Linked DNA regions of Homo sapiens: region 2 is linked to region 1. The links come from fine-mapping of genetic effects on gene expression. Tissue or cell type: whole blood. Region 1 holds a variant in brackets; the other region holds the start of a gene. All regions are shown on one strand. Distances are from middle to middle.

Region 1 (12,164 bases):
AAAAAGAGGAAGCAGAAATAAACATTTTAGAAAAGAAAAAACTAACAGAGAAGATAAAAGAAAGAACGGCAACAGAAGAAAGGGCAGGAAGAAATTAAAAAGGGGTTAGAAGAACCTGAAGAACTCCAGCTGCTAACACCAGAGGAACAATTAGCAGATAAACCGCAGCTGGAGAAATCACAGGAAGAGTCAGACATGGAATTAGCAAAGGCAACTTTTGGTGTTAAGACTACTGTATATGGATCGGATGCTGTAAACCCATCTTCAAGGGATGACCTTACAGAGTTTGGAAAGTTACTAAAAGATAAAATTACACAAAATAAAAAGTCACTATATTATGCCAGTTTTTTGGAAGTCTTAGTTGGAGATGTGTGTATGTCATTGGAAACTGATGACTTGAAAAAGGTTCTCAATACATTGTGCTTTGAAGTGAAAAACAGAAGCAAGCAAAGCCAAGCCAAAAAGAAGAACAAAGGTATGGTTCCTGGAGGGAGATTAAAAGCCACCATGACAAATGATCTGGTAAATTATGGTGGTGATGATGCAGGGTATGCACAAGACTATGAAAATGTCATGTGACATTGCATCTTTTCCTGGTGTCATCTTTATGTTGCCCACGACCCCTTCAACGCACAGCACAACTTCCTTTCCTTTCAGTTCTGCCAAATGCTACAATCCAAAGTGCAGTCTCTTTCGTGCTGGTTATTTAACCCCTTGACACTTAGGTGTTAACGTGCAAATGAGGGAGCTTGGATCTTGCTGCCAAGGGGTTAAAATCAGGAACCTCAATTGCTACTAAATCATAGTCCAAAACAAAGCAAACCTAATAATGTCATTTTTGGTTTCAGATTTCATAGCGGCAGTCACTGAAAATTGGAAACAAAAGGCTGCAACAAGACAAAATAAATTGTGTAGTACTCAACAGCACTATTCAGTAATACAGCCTTAACCATACCTCCTTGAACTACTTCATAACTTGTCAAGAAAAGCAGCTGCAGCAAGGGCATGTGGCATGCACCTAGTATGAAAATTGCTTTGTCTTAAAATTGAATGTGAGGCTATTAAAAATACATTGTGAAGAAGACTGCTTATGCCAGAGTGAAGATACTGTGGCTGAAAAGCACTAGTTTGATTAAAATTAAATGACCAAAGCCTTCCAACTTTGAATCTGAAGAGGGTAAGCCTCTCCATTATAACATCACATGTTGTGGATTCTCTTGAATACAAAGACTGTCTAGTTACTGAAACCACCTTTGCAAAATTATGACTGAGACAGTGAAAGAGATCTAACTGAATTGATTCCATCCTGCTTCTAACCTCCAAGCTGTCCTTGTTCATTCTTGGGTGTAGGCTGAAGTAACTTTGGGAGAAACTTAGTTTATAGTTTAAAACAAAGACGATAACAGCCCTATCCCAAAGCAGACTTCCTCCTTGCCTGGGGACTACTGCCTTTGCAGGACTAACATTAGCCACAAGATTAGAAATTATGGTTTAGGAGTCATGCAGCTGGAGGCTGCAAGATTCTGACCCTCCCTAACCTGTTCCTAAGATCAGTGCGTGAGATATTTTGCAGCCCCTGCACTTAATGAATCAGCTGGCACCACCCAGATTAATAAACTGTCTCATCTGACCTTGTGGCCCCACCCAGGAACTGACTCAGCACAGAAGACAGCTTCGACTCCCTATTATTTCTTCTCTGACCAATCAGCAGTCTTGGCTCATTGGCCTCTCCCCACCCACCAAGTTGTCCTTAAAAACTATGCTCCCCAAGTGCTCTTCTGGGAGACTAATTTGAGTGATAATACAGCTCTGGTCTCCCACACAGCCGGTTCTTTGTGAATTACTCTTTCTCTATTGCCATTCCCCTGTCTTGAGAAATTGGCTCTGTCTAAACAGTGGGCAAGGTGAACCCCTTGGGTGGTGACATTACTTATCAAACTATTTCTACTGATGAAGTGCTTCAGATGGGGGCTTCAGGACTCTTTACCTGTTTTTGTTTGCCTGATTTAAGTGTCTGAGAAACAAATCTTAGTTCTCCTGGGCTGCAATAAAACAACTTTACCAGGGTTTTGGCATTTCCTTTCTTTTCCTTTATAAAATATGCTCAACAAACTGCACCAGTTAACTACAGTTTGATAAATTGCTAACAATTATGACATTTGCAATGATTTATAAAGCAACTATTTCAAATAAATAAATTACAAAGAGCATTAAAGGAGTTTATTCTATGAACAAAAGACAGCAGTTTCTGCCCCAGCCTAGAGAAGGTTCAGAACATGAGAAGGATTTGAAAGGAGAGCAGAGAAGTCACCTTTGGGTGTGAGTCCCTGAGCCACAGAGGTAGGGGATGGGAGACAGGGGAAGGGTCAAGAATATGCATTTTTGCACATAGGAGTCTATGGCTATAAAACTGCTCATAATTAAACTAAAGAGCTTCTGCACAGCAAAAGAAACTACCATCAGAGTGAACAGGCAACCTACAGAATGGGAGAAAATTTTTACAATCTACCCATCTGACAAAGGGCTAATATTCAGAATCTATAAAAACTTAAACAAATTTACAAGAAAAAATCAAACAACCCCATCAGAAAGTGGGTGAAGGATATGAACAGACACTTCTCAAAAGAAGACATTTACGTAGCCAACAGACACATGAAAAAATGCTCATCATCACTGGCCATCAGAAAATGCAAATCAAAACCACAATGAGATACCATCTCACACCAGTTAGAATGGCGATCATTAAAAAGTCAGGAAACAACAGGTGCTGGGGAGGATGTGGAGAAATAGGACGCTTTTACACTGTTGGTGGGACTGTAAACTGGTTTAACCATTGTGGAAGACAGTGTGGCGATTCCTCAAGGATGTAGGACTAGAAATACCATTTGACCCAGTGATCCCATTACTGGGCATATACCCAAAGGATTATAAATCATGCTGCTATAAAGACACATGCACACGTATGTTTATTGCGGCACTATTCACAATAGCAAAGACTTGGAACCAACCCAAATGTCCATCAATGGTAGACTGGATTAAGAAAATGTGGCACATATACACCACGGAATACTATGCAGCCATAAAAAAGGATGAGTTCATGTCCTTTGTAGAGACATGGATGAAGCTGGAAACCATCATTCTCAGTAAACTATCGCAAGGACAGAAAACCAAACACTGCATGTTCTCACTCATAGGTGGGAATTGAACAATGAGAACACATGAACACAGGGCGGAGAATATCGCATACTGGGGCCTGTCGTGGGGTGGGAGGAGAGGGGAGGGATAGCATTAGGAGATATACCTAATGTAAATGACGAGTTAACCGGTGCAGCACACCAACATGGCACATGTATACATATGTAACAAACCTGCATGTTGTGCACATGTACCCTAGAACTTAAAATAATTAAAAAAAAAAGAAAAATAAAAAACAAAAATAAAGTTAAAAAACTGCTCATTATTATATGTTAATATAAACATACTACATGTTATTATATATTAAGTTTATCCCAAATGTTTCTGACAATGTATTAGGTTGGTGCAAAAGTAATTGCGATTTTTGTCGTTACTTTTAAATGGCAAAACCGCAATTATGTTTGCACAAACCTAATACATATTAAAGACAATTTTCAAACTCATGGGTTCTAGAACCCTTGTGAGAACAGTCAGTTTTCCTAATGTAACTTCTAAAAGTACTTATTAGGTGGGAAAGCAGTGTTCTTTTTTTTTGAAATAGGGTTTCTGGTTCTGTCACCCAGGCTGGAGTGCAGTAGCGTGATCGTGACTCAATGCAACCTCCACTTCCCAGGCTCCCAAAGTTCTAGGATTACAAGCATGAGCCACTGTGTCTGGCCACAGTATTCTTGTGATCATTGGAATCTGTAGTGTAATCCCACCATAATGATTTGGTAATGGGGTTTAAGGTCCCACTTATACTTAGAAAAGAAAGTTTTAATAACAGGAATAAATTAAGGGGATAAATTTTTCTGAAGTTTTGTTGAAACTTTAAAGAGAAAATCTTACAACATGAAGGCTAAAAAGATTTCCTGAACAAAAGAAGGCTAAGGCACAGTTAAATAAAACAGTGTTCGTTACTGTCAATTTGCACTTGGTTTCTGGTGGCAAGTAATTGGGGTGTGTCCTTGACTGGATCTCTCAATGAGATTTATCAGTCATTTGAATGAATATGGTGGTGACGCTTACAGGAAGCTTGAAGGTACTTTAAATGCTTTTTTACTTTGTAATTTTTGTGGGTACATAATAAGTGTATATATTTATGGGCTATGTGAGATATTTTGATACAGGCACGCAATGTGTAATAATCACATCAGAGTAAATGGAGTATCCATCTCCTCAAGCATTTATCCTTTCTTTGTGTTATAAACAATCCAATTATATTCTTTTAGTTATTTTTACACATGCAAGTAAATTATTATTGACTACTGTTACCTTGTTGTGCTATCAAATACTAGGTTTGTTTCATTCTTTCTATTTTTTTGTACCCATTAACCATCCCCACTTCCCTTGACACTCCCACTACCCTTCCCAGCCTCTAGTAACCATCCTTCTACCCTGTATCTCCATGAGGTCACTTGTTTTAATGTTTAGCTCCACAAAGAAGTGAGAACATGTGAAGTTTGTACTTCTGTGCTTGACTTATTTCACTTAAAATAATGACCTCCAGTTCCATCCATGTTGTTGCAAATGACAGATTTGATTCTTTTTTATGGCTGAAATAGTAGTGCTTTGTGTATATGTACCATTGTGTATATGTATATTTTCTTTATCCATTCATCTGTTGATGGACACTTAGATTGCTCCCAAATCTTGGCTATCCTGCAACAAACATGGGAGTGCAGATATCTCTTCGATATGCTGATTTCCTTTCTTTTGGGTAAATACCTAGCAATGGGATTGCTGGATCGTATGGTAGCTCTATTTTTAGTTTTTTGAGGCATTTCCAAACTGTTCTCCACGGTGGTTGTACTTATTTACATCCCCACCAACAGGGTACAAGGGTTATGTTTTCTCCACATCCTCTCCAGCATTTGTTTTTGCTTGTCTTTTGGATATAAGCCATTTTAACTGGGGTGAGATGACACCACCTTGTAGTTTTGATTTGCATTTTTCTGATGATTAGTGACGTTGAGCACCTTTTCATATGCCTGTTTGTCTTTTGTATGTCTTCTTCTTCTTCTTCTTCTTCTTCTTCTTCTTTTCTGAGATGGAGTTTCACTCTGTTGCCCAGTTGCCCAGGCTGGAGTGCAGTGGCGTGATCTCGGCTCACTGCCACCTCCACCTCCCAGGTTCAAGTGATTCTCCTGTCTCAGCCTCCCAGGTAGCTGGGATTACAGGCGTGTGCCACCACACCTGGCTAATTTTTGTATTTTTAGTACAGATGAGGTTTCACCATGTTGGCCAGGCTGGTCTTGAACTCCTGGCCTCAAGTGATATGCCAGCCTTGGCCTCCCAAAGTGCTGGAATTATGGGCGTGAGCCATCACACCCAGCCTGCCATTTGTATGTCTTCTTTTGAGAAA[T/C]GTCTATTCAGATCTTTTGCCAATTTTTTAATCAGATTATTAGACTTTTTTCCTATAGAATTGTTGGAGCTCCTTATATATTCTAGTTATTAATCCCTTATCAGATGGGTAGTTTGCAAATATTTTCTCCTATTCTATGGGTTGCCTCTTCACTTTATTGACTGTATTCCTTGCTGTGCAGAAGCTTTTTAACTTGGTATGATCCTATGTGCCTATTTTTGCTTTGGTTGCCTGTGCTTGTGGGGTGTTACTCAAGAAATCTTTGTCCAGACCAACGTCCTGGTGAGTTTCCCCAATGTTTTTGTGTAGTAGTCTCATAGTTTCAGGTTTCGAATTTTAGCCATTTTGATTTTATTTTTGTATATAGTGAGAGATAGGGGTCTAGTTTCATTTTTCTGCATGGATATTCAGTTTTTCCAGCACCATTTATTAAAGAAACTGTCTTTTCCCCAATGTTTGTTCTTGGCAACTTTGTAAAACATGAGTTCACTGTAGATGTGCTTGAGGGCACACACAAAAATCCATCCCACCCCACTAAGCCACCCAAACAAACATGAAAGACAAAAACTGTTTTTGTTGGGGAAACACAGCTCTGGAACTAATTCCCTGGGCCCCTTGTTAACACCAGCCCCTCCTATAAGAAAATGATTTGTCGAAGCTTCAGTGACCATTGAAGGGATGCTCTATAAGACAAGTCTGTTGACTGAAAGAGACAGAAACCAATGTTGAAGCTACTTATGCAAGAGGAGGACCTGGGTGGCACAGACCTGGCTGGATGCAGGGCTCACAGATCGTCATCAGCACTCCATCTCTTCCCACCTTCAGGACCTACTGTCCTCTGTTTTGCACACACTCCCAGCCAGGCTCACTTTTTATCCTCCTTGGAGGAAAGTGGGTTTCCCAGTTGTGTCTGGGCTGGTGCTGCTTGGCCCTGCCTGGGTCCCATGCTGGCCTCAGGATGAGAGGGATGGTCACCTCAGCTACAGCACATGGATTGCTCTGTGAAAAGCAATCTCCACAGGAAACCAGGATGGCTTCACCAGGGAGGCAGAACAACAAATGCCCATGACAGAGGGCATGCACCGTGAATAAAAGAATCAGGATTTTAAACAGAAAGGCAGAAAGAAGAGGACTTCCAAACCCTAGAAAGTTTAAAACTAATAGAATAAAATTTACTGTGCGTAAATGTAAAGCCTTATGTTGAGATTAAATATATGTATGTGTGTCAAATTTTATCTAAAAATATATGTAGCCAAAGAGTCAGAAAAAATAAAAATAAAAAAGTAACAAAAGTAAAACAAAAATATATGTAGCCATATTCATGTGATGCAACTACAAGAAAAAAGTAGAAATGGTTTAGTAGTGTCCTTAAAAAAAAAAGTCTTAGTTTTTGGTTGCTGGTCACTTTGAGATGGTTATCAACGTGATTTGGACACTTTAAAAGTTTGCAATAATGAGATTAAAAAGCAAGATAAAGGAGGAAATAGTGCTGTTAATGCCTATTTCATGGTGTCATGTCTGGAATATTGTGCTTGAGCCTGGGGGTGCGGGTGGGGGTGACATTTTAAGGACACTAGCGAGCATTCAAAGAAGAATCAGCATCCAGCTCGTGAAAACGACCATGACACCTCCCCTTCCACCCCCCTTGCCCCAGAGCATGCCATTTTAAGGATTATTTTGAGTGTAAAGAAACTAAAAATCAATAGATAGAAGATTATTTCTCTGCTCTCCCCTCGGATGCCTAAAACCCGGGCATAAATTTCCCTTTGTTAAGGTGGCATGGATTTCCCCCTCTCCTGTACCAGGATGAGGAGAGGGAACACTTGTCACCAGGGACAGAGAGCCAACACCAAAATAAGTCTGCATAAACAAGCCTCCCTAAATAAGCAGGATAATCCATTAGTTCCCACATAGTTTTCCTAGTCACTTTTCCACAATTAATCATTCCTCAAAGCCCAAATCTTCTTTCCTTTGTTAAAATGGCACATAAGCCTCTGAGTTTAGCCATTTCTTTGACTTTCCTTTCCTTTCTGTGAACTCCTGTGTATGTAAAATATTAGTAAACTTTCTATTATTTTCTCCTGTTAATCTGTCTCTTGTGAGTCAAACTTGCAGAGCCTCCCAGTCAGTGAACCTAAGAGGGAAGAGAAAATGTATTTCCTTCCTGGCACTACAAATGGTGCATGTTTGTTGAAAGGAAGTACTTAACTGCTACACGGCAGGAGGTATAATCCAGACAGAAGTAAGAAGTGTGCTGGATATTAGAATATTCCTGCTCTTCATAAGTGGATGAATTATATGACCACCAATTTTCCAGTACTCCTAAAATTTTTGATCCCAAAGGTACCTTAAATCCCTCTAAAACAAGAATAAAAAAATTGAATACCTTGTTGAGAAACAGATGTTCAGAACTTTTTCATCTTGTAGAATGGAAACTACACCTATTAAACAACAACTCCTGTTTTCCTCCCCATCCCAGTTCCCACTAATCACCACTCTACTTTCTATTTCTATGAACTTAGCTGCCTTAGATAACTTGTATAAGTAGATTCACACAATATTTTCCTTTTTGTGACCATGCTCTTACTCTTAGGACAATGGCCTTAGGGTTCATCCATGGGGCAGCACGGGACATGATTTCCTTCCTTTCTAAGGTCACAGAATGTTCTATTGTGTGTCTATTTTCAAAGGAGGAATTCTGGAGATGGGTGATTATATCAACACTCACGGTATCTTATTTAATTTTTAACACAAAATTATGAGGTCATTGCTGTTATACACATCTATAGTGGTTAAAATCAAGCCTTCGAGACTGAAAGTAATTTGCCCAAAGTTTATGCATACCAGAAATGAGACTTGAGTTATCTTCTTCCCAAACCTTTGCCATTGAGTAGGAAACTCATAAAGTCAAAGGGCACTGGAATTGTTGCTTCTATTGGTTTGTCATTTTTTTCCACTTACTGTTTTAGTGCAGACATGTCTGAAATGCAAACAGGTTTTAAAATGGAAGCTTTGGAGTATTCCGTAATTATGGTTATCAACGTTTAGTATTTCCAGCAAAACATTCTTATTTATCAACTTCCCCATTTATCTCAATCAAAATAAGTAGGAAAAAGAAAAAGCATAAATAGTTCTCACTGCTTCTACAATCCAAAAGAAAAATAAAAAATATAAGCGAGAAATGCAAGTTCAGAGAAGTTCCCAATTTTCTTCCCTTTCATCATTGGGCAAAATGATCAAACTATTCTTGCTGAGTGGGCAACTCCCCATGGTACTTCAGAAAGGCTTTGTTGCCTGGTGTGGCAATGCCTAAAAATTCCTTAGATGCTAGGGGAAATGCAACAGCATTGTCCCAGATGACTGTACTATGCTGTTTTTCTTTTTCTTTTCTTTTATTTATTTATTTATTTATTTATTTATTTATTTATTTATTTACTTTTGAGACAGAGTTTCGCTCTTGTTGCCCAGGCTGGAGTGCAATGGCATGATCTCAGCTCACCACAACCTCTGCCTCCTGGGTTCAAGCAATTCTCCTGCCTCAGCCTCCCAAGCAGCTGGGATTACAGGCATGCACCACCACTCCTGGCTAATTTTTCTATTGTTAGTAGAGATGGTGTTTCTCCACGTTGGTCAGACTGGTCTCAAACTCCTGACGTCAGATGATCCATCTGCCTTGGCCTCCCAAAGTGCTGGGATTACAGGTGTGAGCCACCGCACCCGGCCACTATGCTGTTATTCTTGATATCACTAGATTAGATATTTTGTTGAGTCTTACCTTAAATACCCTTCATGCTAGTTTGTACCAGTAATCTCACACACCTCAAGCTGTTTCTCTTTCTCTTCACTGTCCCTCCATGGTTCCCTGGGAGAGGGGCAGCAGAAGAAGGTCCCAGCTCCCTGTGTTTGAAAACTGATGGGTTCAGGCAGGATTGGTGGCCCGTGGCTTGCCAGCCCAGATGCCACCCACATGGACCTCTTGCATTGTCCTGCAGGACTCTGGCAGAGTTCCAGAATCCACCAGGCCCCTGAGAATGGAGTGGTGAGGCCTTAGAGGACCGCTGCTGAGGACACTGGCTAGCTTCTGATGATGGGGACTCTCTAAAGAACACAGGAGTTCTAAGTTCCCTGAGGCACTTCTAAGCATCTCTAGGATAGCAAGGAGGGTCTAGGATTCCTGTGTCCTGGGGGCAGGAGAAATTCCCCAAGTCCACCTGAGACCCACTGAGCTGTGGGCAAAGTGCCAGGGTCCCGGGGAGTTGTAGCCAAATTAGCAACAATTCTTCTCTTAGCCTAATTATCATTCTGCCATGGTATTTACTGGGTGTCTATCATATACTGGGGACCCCTACACTGTAAAACAAAGTCTCTGTCCTCAAGATGCTTTGGTTGGGGAGATGGGATATGTAACAGTTTTGTTTGTCCTTCTGATATAACTAAAACATGTTTCTTATATCATTCAAATCATTATTTAGTTTCATTTATCCCTTTGAACTTGGGGAAAAACTCACTCGTTTACCACTTCACATATTTCTTAATCAAATTCTACTCACTTCCGCAGAGTCTTGCAACCATCCCTGACACTACTCCTGAGTGTTGCATGTCAGTAACTTTCTACATGAAGCACATAGAAATTTGGAAGTTGGAAGTGTGCATGAGGAGTAGGGTACTGTGCACTGTGGGTGGATTTAGAGGATTCACAGGCCACATCCCCAGTGTAGACAATAATTAGCCTGGCAATGGTGACCTTGTATGGACCTTGCTCCGTGAACCACAAATCTGGGATGCTGGCCAAGGAAACACTCAGGCAGAACACCCCAACACCAAGGCTTTTTATTTTATTTTATTTTATTTTATTCTTTTTTATTTATTATTATTATTATTATTATACTTTAAGTTTTAGGGTACATGTGCACAATGTGCAGGTTAGTTACATATGTATACATGTGCCATGCTGGTGCGCTGCACCCACTAACTCGTCATCTAGCATTAGGTATATCTCCCAGTGCTATCCCTCCCCCCTCCCCCCACCCCACAACAGTCCCCAGAGTGTGATGTACCAAGGCTTTTTAATTGCCCGGCAGTGGGACTGTGAACCTGGGAGACCTGTGCCTTCAGCCATTGCTGATTCCTCCTTCTAGAGTGGGAGATCAGCACCTGGACAGAGGACACTGTGACTAGAAAATGCATTTAAAAGAAGGGATTATTGCTTCCTCGGATCAGACTGTGTGATCTACAATGAACTCTTACATGTTATTTTATCTGGCATTCTAACAATGATCCCAAAGAAACATCAGACTCCTTGTTCAGAAGGTAGGTTAGTTCTCAGCAGTACAAGTTGGGTCCTCAGTGGATCCTGTGCATTTGAGGATGAAGTTTACAGATGCTTTGGACCGTAGCTGCAGGTCTGATTTGAGGACAATGAGACCAAGTCAGGGAGGCAGCAACTAATGGGGGAGGGAATAAGACACAAGAAATAACAAACATAAAGTACCAGAGTGGACTTAGTAACTCAGCAGAACTTCCAAATCTCATATTGAGATTGCCCTGGTTTTGGCATGTTGAAGGGATCATATACAGGGAATGGGGAATGCCTAATTATATGGGTCTATTTCCTCTTTATGGTCTCAAAGATTTTTTTAAGAGTTTATAGGATTATTTTTTTAATTACATAAGAAAGATTTAATTTTTAACATCTTAAAATGGTTACAGTTCATGAATACCACAAGACAACCTAAAAAGGTGCAGTCTAGAGTAGCCTATTTGGCTGTTAGTAGCAAAGGTTTTGACCATGGTCAATGACTTAATATCCATGTTAGTCACTCCTGAGTTGATATTACTGTAATTTTTTTTTCTCATTGACTTGGGTGATAGCATAAAAAGTATACTCATTAATTTTACAAATGACAAATGTCAGATGTTACAACTTATTTTAAAGGGATTCCTGTGGTACTTCAAACTTTACTAAAGACAAAACAAACGGTTTTTATCTTCATAATTGTTTTGCTTCCTGGATCTCTCCCTTCTGTTCATGATATCAGTGACTTCACTGCCAAGGCTAAAGTGATATCATGAAAAGAAAAGAGAAACCCAGAAAGCAAAACAGTTATGAAGATAAAGACCATTTATTTTGTCTTTAGTAAAGTTTGAAGTACCAGAGGATTTCTAGGTAGGTCTAGTAAAAAAAAATGTAAAGTTTGAAGTATAGCCCAGTCAGGAAAGAATTCAGTGTTAACAGATACATATTTCAAAGTCATCCATCCACATGGAATTGGAAGCTGATATTATAAAAGTGGTTAACATGAAAGAAAGGTCAAGGAAGGACTTCGGTGAATGTCTATATTTTGGGGAATACATGGAGGGAGGCATTGTATAAGTCAGGAGTAGGCAGGTTATGAAGTGGTAAAAACAACCTTAAAAACCTGAATGGCTATATCAGTTTGTAATTGCAGCTGGGCCCAACTTAGCTGGATGCCTCTGCCTCACAGTCTGTAAGGTTACAGTCAAACTACAGACTGGGGCTGCTGTTTCATCTGAAGGCTCAACTGGTGCTGCAGGATGTGCTTCCAAGCTCACACACGTGGTTTTTGGCAGACTTCAGTCTCTTAACACATGGGCCCCTTTATGA
Region 2 (12,164 bases), 23 kb before region 1:
TCTCTTCAGCCTTGGCTTTTGGATCATTGTGAACTCAGAAATCTATCGGGAAAGTCTAATTCTGAACACTGATTCTTTTTTCTCTTTACATTCCTATTGTTAAAATTCTGATTATCTGTGAGAAAACAATATCCCTGTCTGTATAGGGGTGATGTCCTTGAAAAGGGAACACAAAAAAGGAAAAAAAATCATATTTGCACAATAAAGTATCACCCCCCTTGTGTTATATACACCACAGGTCTGCAGGCATGAGACTGAGGTCAGACTGTGAGTATTCTCCCCTCCATCCCACCCTCCACCTGCTCTGTGACCTGCGTCAGAACCCCAGGGACAAGATAAGATTTCTCCAAAACTCAATGGAGAGTCACAGAAAACAGGAAGTGCTTTTGAGGAAGTTTTGAATGGAAGCAGGAGGTGAGAGTTGGGAACTGTATGCTGGGAAATGACCTCTCGGCTGGGACTCTTGGGAGGGTGTGATGTCTTGGTTGCTGCTCCTGTGAACTGTGGAGAAGGTCAGGTTTAGCGTAAACTGTCCCCTGTGGTCCTCCTGCAATTCTCCTAATGACTGTCAGCCCTCAGTACCAGGGTCCCATACACCCCTGCAGCACTGCATCCCCATTTGTTGGAGTTCCACCTCCTGAGACCAAATCCTGGCTTCCTCACTGACTAGCCCTGTGCCCTTGGGCAAGCTCCGTAACCTCTCTAACCTCACTGTACTCATCTGTAAAATGGGGATGAGGGTTATTCTGATAATCAAATGCCATAATACACAACAAGGCGAATGTGGTGCTTGGCACGTAAGTCAGCAGTGTGTTCCCAGTTGACCACTGGTTTCAGGAGGCCAACAAGGACAGTGGGATTTTAGGTGAGTCTTTGGGTATTTTCCCCCCATTTGTCTTGCTTATCTGTATTATCTATGTTTTTCATAATGATCACTTGTTTTATTTGTTTTTCACCTAAAAAATTATTGAAAAATAACAGATGAAACTGCTGGAAGGATAAAAGGCTAAGGTCCTCTGAGAATCCTTGAAAACGGCCACCAGCAAGTTATTCATTAGAAATTTCAAAGGGAAATTTCCAAACCAAGCCACCTCAATGACAGGCTTAGTGCTCTAGGAACAAGGTGGAGGGGATGTGGGCCATTATTGTTTATAAGCCAGAGAGATGGTGGGTTACTTGCTCTATCTGGTAATTAAACATTCACATATTCTACATTTTTTAAATAAATCAATGCCTTTTTCATCAAATTACGAACAGGCCAGGACACTGAAGTTTGAAGGCAAATGTTCATTCCTGTCTGCTCCACATCTGGCTTTCCAGGACAACACAATGGTCAGTCCACTAAAAGTCAAGGAAGTCCTGATTTTTCTGGCTAGAAATCAAGAAAAGTCATTTTTTGATGTGCTTATTATGTTTCTGAGAATATGCAAGAGAAGAAGGAGAAAAACACAAGCCTTCCAGATGGGCCACTGCCGGTTAAGCTTGCATTTTAGGGAGAGGTGATGCCCACCTTTAACCTCTTTCGAGGCATCACACACTTTTGGGCTCAACAACCAAAAAACAACAGGGGAGAAAGCAATGATGATGGGAGCTGTTTTGGCTGAGAAACTCCAAGGGCCCAGGAGCTCCTTCACCCTACATCAAACCATGGAAAAGAGCTCACCAGAGATAGTGGGTTGGCATAGCTCCAGATCATGCTTATGGCCCTATATCCCTAATCCATCTCTCTCTGCTCTGTCCTAAGACTTCAGTTGACTGGCCTTCCCCAGGTCTCAAGGGCTTGTCACATTCTTCATTACTTTTCTGTGTTTTTCGACAATTCTATCTAACATCTTCAGTAATATGTGTTAAGGTATGGCTCTCATAAGAGTGTTTCAATGATTCAGGGGCACTCTAACCTTCCAAAACATTTGTAAGAAGAATAGTAGCTGTGTGCTTGGAACTGCCTTCTAAGCACTACCTAACCTATCTGCTTCAATCTTCTCAATACCCACATTTTTAATTCCCCTTTACAAGTGAGGAAGTGCAGGCTCTATACATTTAAGTGTCTCACCCAAAGTGACATGGTTGTCAAAAACTGAACTATGACTTGAACTCCAAATTATTTAATTCCAAAATAAGCGGACTTAATTACTCTTTACTTGTGTACTTGATTATTGCCTGTGTCTGCCTGTCAGCCATCATGCTCACCACTCACCAGACAAGTGGTACATCCTAAATAAGTATTTTCAGAATGAACGAATACTATCTTCCCTCGAGGCCCAGAGATTGGAGGCATCATGGTGGAACAGCAGCGGGTCAGTGCTTTGTTTCACAGTTCACTGAAACATCACGGCCAGTGGCCTTGTGGCCCCTAAGGAGTCCAGACAACTATGGAGTCCTTGGTACAAAAGCAGGAATTCCTTGTTTACTTGCAGAAACACTTCATGTTGAGACTTTTGTAGTCTTCTTCCTTCCTTCTTTCCTTTTTTTTCTTTTACTGTTTCTTTCCTTCCTTCCTTCCTTCTTTTCCCTCCTTTCTTCCTTCCTTCCTGCCTGCCTGCCTGCCTGCAAAGCTAGATCAACCAGCTTAAGTTGTTACAAAACTAGAAAATCTGAATTAAGTAGAAATCATGAATTGAACATGTTTCAGAGGGAAGGAACTAAATCTAGCCTCAAATGAGAAGCTTATTTCCCAAAATATGAAAGCCTTTAAAAATTATGGCTAGCATTGTTTTTGTTTTTCTATCAGGACACCAAAATCAAGTCTACGGGTGTCTGATTTTCAGACTTCAAAGACTTTGGGGCATGCCTCAGCACCCAGCCTCATCCCTCCTCTTCTCCTCTTGGATTCAGTCCCTTCTCCTGAGTTGGGAGGTTGTCTGGACAGTGTCTTTGCTATCTGCGTTGCTCCTCTCCCCACCACCCATGTGCATTTGCCCCTCTGTCCCTCAGTGCATTTCCCCCAGGATGCTCTGGCCAAACTGACCAGGTGTCTCCATCTCTGCCCCTTTTCTTTCCCCTGAATGCTGTCCAGTGTTTTCTGGAACCTGTGAACTTCCCGTGAATGATAAATACCAAGAGCTTCTCAAAATGAGACCCCATGTTCTAAACAGAACCTGCAGTCAGGATTCCAGGGAAGGTCAGCAGGTTCCCACCCCCAGAAGCACTTTGCCGTGTAAGACATTGTCTATGGAACATCAATGTCACTTAGGGCCTTGGAAAGACATTCAGGAAGGGAGTTACTACGCCTGAATTTCTGGAGATGTGTTTAGTAGGGAAGAATTCACTATAATCCATGAATGATTGATTGATTTCTAGAAAGGCTCACGCATGTTTCTTTTTGCCACTCAGGACTGGACCTCTGAATCAGTGCGGAATATGAATGAGAGCGGTCAGGGGAGAACTGGAGGATGCTGGTGGAGGCTGGAAGGCTTGCAGTCACCTGCCTGTGCTTATCTAAGTGATGAGAATGTAGGAGCAGCAGGACCTGGCCCATCACTACCCTATGTTTGTTACAGGAGAGAGGACCGTCCTCCCACAGGTCAGAGCTATTGTTAATCAAGGTGACAGTGCAAGATGCATTCCCACTCCTGACTTCTCGCTGTAAATAGGTTTCCTGAGTGGTGTTGGTTTATTTTCAATTTGGAAGCCAGTTCAATCAAATGTTTCACTAGATTCAAGTTTGATGAAAATACTAGCAAATCCCCCAACTAACGAGTCACTATAAGTAACTCAAGGCATCAGTCCTGCTCCCCACATAAGGGAGTACTGGTCCTGAGGAAATGGGACCACATATATAGGGAACAAAAGTGATACAATGGGCCATGAGGGTGTGATGAGTATCCCAGTGATTGCTTTGGGTAAATTTTGCTGGCCACATCGGTTTCAGTTCCTCTACATAGACAAGGAAATGCTCCTCATGACCGACAACAGCTCCTCCTGCACCGAGGCTGTCTAGTCATTAGAATGGTCTCTAGAAGACAATATCATCAGCAATCACTGCTAGCAAGGAGCTGGCTTCTGTGGTACTATGTTGTTGCTAATAGTTTTTGTTAGAGCAACTGCATTGTGGGAGACCTGATCCAGGGAAGGCAGAAACCAAAGCCTGTGCTCCCAAGGAGGTTATGGAAAATGAAGAAAAACACCAGCCCCTCTGCAGGAGGAAGCTGGAAATGGTTGGAAGGACCACCCATGGCTAGAGCCCCAGCACTTGGGTCATGACTCACCCTGGGTAGGTCAAGTACAGGCCCCACTTCTTCAGGCCTTGGTTGTGGATCAGACCCTGGATTCTTCCCCTCCGGGTACAGCCCAGTTGCCATGATGCTCCTTGAGTCAATGAGCTCTTTGGTCTGATCTTCTGCTCAAGCAAAGAAAGGGTCCGGCTTCAGTTCTCAGAGGCTGATAAGTACCAAGGTGGCAGAATATGGGAGTATCCTGCAGGTGCTCCCAGCATCTGCCCTGGCTCAGGTGCCAGAGGCTTGCGATTTTCTAGCTCTTGACCTCACACCCTCGATTGTTTGTTTTCCAATTCCTTCCTGAATAACGGGGTGAACATGCCACCCCTCCTGGTGGCGAATGGGGTTCCTCAGAACTGGGAGGCCACAGTCCAGATTCTGAGGCTCTTCACTAAGCAAGTGCTGGAGAGCAAAGCCACTCACTCACAACTCTCTCTCTTTCTCTTTCAAATTTGGGGAAGGGGAGGCCATCTGAGCAGTTTCTCTCACACTCCCCAGTAAGGAACTCATGAAGGACCAAGTGAGCTCTAAGCCCCCGGTAGAAACATTCAGCTGTTCCAATGAACTTCTTGTGATCCTGAAATCTGCAAAGTTAGAACCAAGGCAGACGTAGGTACTCCAGTTACCTAACACCACAGAAATATTGTTTTTATTTCATAAAATAATAAATTTAAATACTGCTATGGTTTCCTTGTTTGCCCCCTCCAAAACTCTTGTTGGAACTTATCTCCAATGTGGCAGCATTAAAATGTGGGGCCTTTAAGAGGTGATTAGGACATATGAGCTCTTCCCTAATGAATACATTAATCTATTCATGGAATAATGGGTTCATAGACCAACAGGTTATCTTGGGAATGGGACTGATGGCTTTTTTTTTTTTTTTTTTTTTTTTTGAGATGGAGTCTCGCTCTGTCACCCAGGTTGGAGTGCAGTGGCGTGATCTCGGCTCGGCTCATTGCAACCTCCACCTCCCAGGTTCAAGTGATTCTCCCGCCTCAGCCTCCCAAGTACCTGGGATTACAGGTGTGCACCACCACGCCTGGCTAATTTTTGTATTTTAGTAGAGACAGGATTTCACCCTGTTGGCCAAGCTGGTCTCAAACTCCTGACCTCAAGTGATCTGACTGCCTCGGCCTCCCAAAGTGCTGGGATTACAGGTGTGGGCCACTGCGCCCAGGCAGGACTGATGGCTTTAAAAGAAGAGGAAGAGACCTGAGCTAGGACACTCAGCCCTCTCGCCCTGTGATGCCCTACACCACCTTGGGCCTCTGCAAAGAATCCCCACAAGCAAGAAGGCCCTCACAAGATACACTTCCTGGACCTCAGACTTCCCAGCCTCGAAAACTGTAAGAAATAAATGTTGTTCTCATAAATTACACAGTTCCAGGTATTCTGTTATTAGCAACAGAAAAGAGACTAGGACAGATATCACAGTTAGATTGTATTCTACACATTGTGACTGGTTCTCCAGAGAAGCAATGCATAAAAAGAGGAATAATCGGCCGGGCACGGTGGCTCACACCTGTAATTCCAGCACTCTGGGAGGCCAAGGCAGGCGAATCACGAGGTCAGGAGTTCAAGACCAGTCTGGTCAATATGGTGAAACCCCATCTCTACTAAAAATACAAAAATTAGCCAGGCGTGGTGGTGCGCGCCTGTAGTCCCAGCTCCTCTGGAGGCTGAGGCAGAGGAATCACTTGAACCCAGGAGGCAGACATTGCAGTGAGCTGCGATTGCGCCACTGCACTCCAGCCTGAACAACAGAGCCAGACTCCGTCTCAAAAAAAAAAAAAGAGGAATAATCTCCAAAATAGTAAACAAATTCCTGCAGACAGGAAATATAATGGTAGATACCTGAGCTAGGAGAGGGGGAATGGGGAACTATTATTCAATGGATACAGTTTCAGTTTAGGAAGATAAACAAGCTCTGGGAATAAACAGTAGTAATGGTTACACAATGTGAAGGTACTTAATGCTACTGAACTCAAAGTTGGTTAAAATGGTACTTGCTATGTGAGGTATATTTTACCACTTAAAAAACTATAGGTGATTGTGCTTCTAAAAGAGTTATCAGTTTAATCTTCAATAGAAATCAATGGACTTTGTTCATTTTTAACAAAGTCAAAATATGCATACGAAAAGGTTATGGGGTAAAGGCAGAGGTAATTATTTTTTTCCCCGAAAGGTATTTTCTACAATGAATGTTTTTATGTAATAAAAAATGAAATGACAAAAGTTTAGAATGTTTGTGGGTTTTGTTCCTTAAATCCTTAATTACATAAATTAATATCTACATTATACAGATTAAGATACATATTTTTCCTCTATCTACAACATTTCTCCATTCTCTGTATCTTAAATCCTGACATTAAATGTCATTAAATTTCTTAAATCTCAAGAGAACGACTTGGTTACCAAGGAAGATATAATCCATAGCCTAGAGAGTGGGCGAATAAAAGCAGCTTCTAATGTTCTCAACTGCTTTTCTCCTGTCAACCAAATGTTTCTGTAAATAACTCATTTCTGTTGGTTTTGGGTAAGACGTGGGAGAAGGAAGAATCCCTGAATGGAGGAGTCTGGAAAGGATGCTTGACAAAACGCCCGCGCTCTCTGGAGACGCAGCCAGTCTCCTCCCTCCTAGGGTCTGGTCTTGACGATAGCATCTCGTGTTTTGGGGATGCCTTTCCTTACCAGATTCTTCTAAAGCCCAGCTGCACCCACCCTTAAGTGGGAGATAAGGCTTCTGCCCGCGGGCTCTGCGTTCGTCCACCCGGCCCCACGTTTGCTGTGGACTAAACAGGAGCCACTGGACTAGAGTACACTTGACTCTCGGCTCTGCGGACCAAAAATTCCAGGACTAAGGAATAGCAAGGTTAGGCTGAAACAGTCCACACAGGGCTTGCGGTAAACGTCTTTTCAGGAGCCACTCGCCCAGTGCAGTAAGTCGTGTACTTAGTTGACTCGAGCGCTCCAGGGAGACGCCCGACCCTACTCTGCGCCGCCCCGGGGCACCAGCTCTGCTTCCTCCAGGTCCACTGAGGCAGGCACGCCCAGCTCTGGGACAGTCAGTAAACAAGCCACGAACCGCGCCAGGGATCAGAGCACCCAGAGTCCCCGCCCAGCTGCCGGCACAGCCAATCGCAGCGCAGCCAGGCGGCGGGGCGGTGCCGGCCGAACCCAGACCCGAGGTTTTAGAAGCAGAGTCAGGCGAAGCTGGGCCAGAACCGCGACCTCCGCAACCTTGAGCGGCATCCGTGGAGTGCGCCTGCGCAGCTACGACCGCAGCAGGAAAGCGCCGCCGGCCAGGCCCAGCTGTGGCCGGACAGGGACTGGAAGAGAGGACGCGGTCGAGTAGGTGTGCACCAGCCCTGGCAACGAGAGCGTCTACCCCGAACTCTGCTGGCCTTGAGGTGGGGAAGCCGGGGAGGGCAGTTGAGGACCCCGCGGAGGCGCGTGACTGGTTGAGCGGGCAGGCCAGCCTCCGAGCCGGGTGGACACAGGTACCGCAGCCAGGCCGCGCCGCGCCGACTCAGGGCCTGGCCCGGCCAGACAGGGAAGCTCAGTCCCCGCACGCCAGACAGCGGTACTCCTGCTGGCGTCACCGCAAACATCCTCTGACCGCTACAGCCAGTGTGTGGCGCAGGCGTCATGTCCCCGGCCCTGCCACGCCTGGAGCCCTGGAAGCTGGCTGCAGGGCGCTGGCTTCCCGCGTGCGGCCATATGACCCCGTCCCTGATTTAGGGGAGCAGTTTGGGGTGTCGGCAGCACAGGCCCAAGTGAATGAAGGAGGGAGCAGTGCGTGCTCTCCTTCCCAGTTTTTCCTGGGAAAGCATTTCAGAAAGGTTTCATTTAAGGAGAGGTTGGGGCGGCGCGGTGGCTCACTCCTGTAATCCCAGCACTTTGGGAGGCTGAGGTGGGCGGATCACCTGAGGTCAGTAGTTCGAGACCAGCCTGGCCAACATGGTGAAACCCCGTCTCTACTGAAAATACAAAATTAGACGGGCGAGGCGGCGCACGCCTGTAGTTCCAGCTATTCAAGAGGCTGAGGAAGAATGGCTTGAACCCGGGAGGCAGAGGTTGCTGTGAGCCGATATCGCGCCGTTGAACTCCAGCCTGGGCCACAGAGCAAGACTCCATCTCAAAAAATAAATAAATAAATAAATAAATAAATAAATAAATAAATAGGAGAGATTGGAAAACTTATCTCAGCTTTTGGTGTTTGTTAGTCAGGAAGATGTGTGAAGGCCTCCTAACTCTTGGGGATCTCTTTGTCCCTACTTGGGAATCCCACCTTATCATTAGTGAGGTTTTGCCTGGGCACGAAACCTGGATTTTTTGCGATTGGTACAAAACCTGGATCAACCGTTTCCCGGTTTCCTAGTTGTTGCCTTAAGCTTCTCACACACAAGGTAGTTTCATACCGTTCTCATAACCTAAATTGTCATCGCATAAACTGTTTCAGCTCCTACAGCTCTGGACAGGCTGCTTTTCATTTTGGTGAGTCCATCCAGTACCTCCACGTGCCCTGTTTTTCTCCAGGCACATCCTTGGCCTCTTCCACAGTCCTTGGGTAAATGCTTGGGAGAATAATTTAAATATTTTTATTCTACCATGGTGGCCCTAATTTTTCAGGGGGCAGTAAGATGGCTTTTTAGGATTGGTCTAATCAGATCCTCATTTTTGTTCCCTTCCTAGGTTTTAAAACATGAATCCTACACTCATCCTTGCTGCCTTTTGCCTGGGAATTGCCTCAGCTACTCTAACATTTGATCACAGTTTAGAGGCACAGTGGACCAAGTGGAAGGCGATGCACAACAGATTATACGGCATGGTTAGTGAAACTTCCCCAGAAAGAATAGTCCTGGCTGTTGAGAAGTTTTAGTCAGAGAGTAGCTTCTAGAGGCCAGCTTTTACCAATAGCCTAATGTAATAACCTAATGGCGTGGATTATGAGCACAATGTGGACATTCATCCTTGTTGTGTCTCAGTTTGGAGAACAGCATCCCCAGAGGTGTCAAGCCTTCCCTTGCCATGGTTTCTCTTCCATCTCTGTCTGCAGATTCACTTGGTGAGGATGAGTTGGGTTTTAGGTAGAAGTAAAGAGCATCAGTTACATGTTTGCCTCTAGAATGAAGAAGGATGGAGGAGAGCAGTGTGGGAGAAGAACATGAAGATGATTGAACTGCACAATCAGGAATACAGGGAAGGGAAACACAGCTTCACAATGGCCATGAACGCCTTTGGAGACATGGTAAGTGTGCTGTGGACTGCCGAGCTCTGTGCTTCCTCTCTTCGGTTCTTTACTAAGGTAATCTCTTGCTTTTCAACATTTTATTTCCTTTTCCTTGAAGACCAGTGAAGAATTCAGGCAGGTGATGAATGGCTTTCAAAACCGTAAGCCCAGGAAGGGGAAAGTGTTCCAGGAACCTCTGTTTTATGAGGCCCCCAGATCTGTGGATTGGAGAGAGAAAGGCTACGTGACTCCTGTGAAGAATCAGGTGAGACAGTGTCAGGTTCAGACCTCCCATCTTCCCAGGAAAGCCAAGAAGTGATTGACATCTTTGTTTTGGTAGACTTTAAAGTGATGTACAGTTCACTTTTTAACAGTATTCAGATGTGTGAGCTGTTGTCAAAGTCTTATTATTTTTTTTTTGTGGATGACAGCTTTTTTTAATTCCCTTTTCAGGGTCAGTGTGGTTCTTGTTGGGCTTTTAGTGCTACTGGTGCTCTTGAAGGACAGATGTTCCGGAAAACTGGGAGGCTTATCTCACTGAGTGAGCAGAATCTGGTAGACTGCTCTGGGCCTCAAGGCAATGAAGGCTGCAATGGTGGCCTAATGGATTATGCTTTCCAGTATGTTCAGGATAATGGAGGCCTGGACTCTGAGGAATCCTATCCATATGAGGCAACAGTAAGTGGAGCTCCTTGTCATCATTCCAGCTCAGCTTTTGGAAGGTGGACACTTTAAGAGATAACAGATACCTTTTTCGGAATTCATATATTAGGGCTGGGTGGGGTGGCTCACGCCTGTAATCCCAGCCCTTTAGGAGGCTGAGCCAGGCAGATGGCTTAAGCTCAGGAGTTTGAGACCAGCCTGGGCAACAAGGTGAAACCTTGACTCTATCAAAAATACAACGAAAATTAGCCGGCTGTGGTGGTGTGCGTCTGTGGTCCCAGCTATGCTGAGGTAGGGCGATTGCTTGAGTGTGGGAGGTGGTTGTGCAAATGCACTCTCCAGTCTGAGTGACAGAATGAGACCCTGTCTCCAAAAAAAAAAAAAAGTTCACATATTAGATGGCAGAATATATATCTGCAAATTGTCAGTACTGTCATTATAAATTATTAGCCTTTGCACAATCCTGTGATTAGATGGGTAACATATAGCTGTTCTTGCTTCTATGTAACGTGAAGAATATACAAGCCATTCTAAATATACACATTTCTCTATTGTGAAAAATGTCTTATGGAAGTAAACCCAGAGGTCTCATTGAAGAGACTGGAGTCAATTTTCAGTTTCAGATTAACTAATAGCATTTCACTTCCTGGGATGATTTATAACAGTGGTGACTTGGAAATACTAAGCTGCACACTGCTGAGTGTTGTGGTTCTAACTCATGTTCTCCAGGAGGAGGACAGCAGTAATCAAGTCTTTTTTTTCCCTTTACCTTTGAAAGGAAGAATCCTGTAAGTACAATCCCAAGTATTCTGTTGCTAATGACACCGGCTTTGTGGACATCCCTAAGCAGGAGAAGGCCCTGATGAAGGCAGTTGCAACTGTGGGGCCCATTTCTGTTGCTATTGATGCAGGTCATGAGTCCTTCCTGTTCTATAAAGAAGGTAAGCATATTTTTCTTTGTAGAAATTGATGCAGAAAAAGAGTATCATGACATACGAGCATGATAGACTCTGGTTTGCAAGTAAAGTTCAGTGTAGATATTTAGGTGCTTAGCATCATAGTTGTTCATTCTGTACATGCAATATTTATACCTGATGTTTCCATTTGACATTATGTTGCGTATATCTCCATGAATATAAGTACTTCATAACTTTTTATAAATAGCTATATTTACTGTGTAGTTTAATATACTTAAAATATTCTGCAATTGTTGGATTTTTATAATTTTTCCAAAGATTTTTACTTCTATTATTAAATCCGAAAAGAGCCTTTTGATTCAAGGATTTTAGTGTTCTGTGCTATTTTTTTAGATTGATATCCTAGAGTAGAATTACAAGCTTACAAAGAGGGGTCTTTTTTTCCTCTAGGAAAGCTTTTTTTTAATGAAGGATTTATGCTGATTTCTATTTCTGCTAGTTGTAAATGAGAGCTTAAATCCCTGGCCTTCTTATTGTTGTTAAGTACTATCTGGAATGTGTGTCACTTCACTGAATTCAGAGATGCCTCATTCCCTGTGGGTGACAGGATGGGTTACTGTCATGTGTCCTCTGGAGCTTCTCACCCCAGCCCTCATTTTACCATCCCAGGCATTTATTTTGAGCCAGACTGTAGCAGTGAAGACATGGATCATGGTGTGCTGGTGGTTGGCTACGGATTTGAAAGCACAGAATCAGATAACAATAAATATTGGCTGGTGAAGAACAGGTATAAATTGCCAGAAATACTTACATTTGAAATTCAAAAGAGAATACTTATTTGCAAACAGTGTTTGGATACAGTTCCACATGCCCTTAGGCATACTTCTGAAATCCCCAGAAGTCTAAGTTGAACATATAATATTAATGTTTGATTATAAAAGTAAGAAACTGTCACAAATATCTTGGGAGTATGAATATAGTATTTGTTCCATTGTATAAAGGTGTATCTAAATCTGAACAGTTTTTAAATTCTGAGGCATATCTGGCTGCAAAGACATCCTATTGTTTTCCTGTCTCTGATCTGTAGTTCTGTGAAAGGTCACAGTTTGGAGGCTGGGATGGAAATTATGTCCA

What was found. PIP is the estimated chance that this variant, and not a neighbour inherited with it, causes the effect.
Region 2: CTSL starts here. The variant in region 1 is fine-mapped to the expression of CTSL in whole blood (TOPMed, PIP above 0.99).

Annotation. Positions count from the first base shown.
Region 1 is chr9:87,741,375-87,753,538 of GRCh38, forward strand. It overlaps LOC124902198 (a long non-coding RNA gene), which reads right to left. Exons shown (of 2, transcript XR_007061644.1): 2 at 10,379-10,983. It also overlaps the pseudogene EIF3JP3. Among named protein-coding and RNA genes, the nearest start is that of CTSL, 21 kb to the left of the region's middle. The variant T/C (reference allele first, on the strand shown) is at 5,540.
Region 2 is chr9:87,718,682-87,730,845 of GRCh38, forward strand. It overlaps CTSL (cathepsin L), which reads left to right and starts at 7,438. Exons shown (of 8, transcript NM_001912.5): 1 at 7,438-7,717; 2 at 8,913-9,048; 3 at 9,346-9,468; 4 at 9,569-9,715; 5 at 9,904-10,128; 6 at 10,892-11,054; 7 at 11,700-11,817. The coding sequence starts at 8,923. RefSeq lists enhancers at 3,765-3,814, 7,229-7,750, promoters at 5,644-7,511, 5,862-7,483, 5,966-7,511, 5,978-7,410, 6,180-7,511 and 7 more and cis regulatory regions at 5,644-5,965, 6,033-6,035, 6,427-6,429, 6,495-6,497, 6,654-6,841 and 12 more.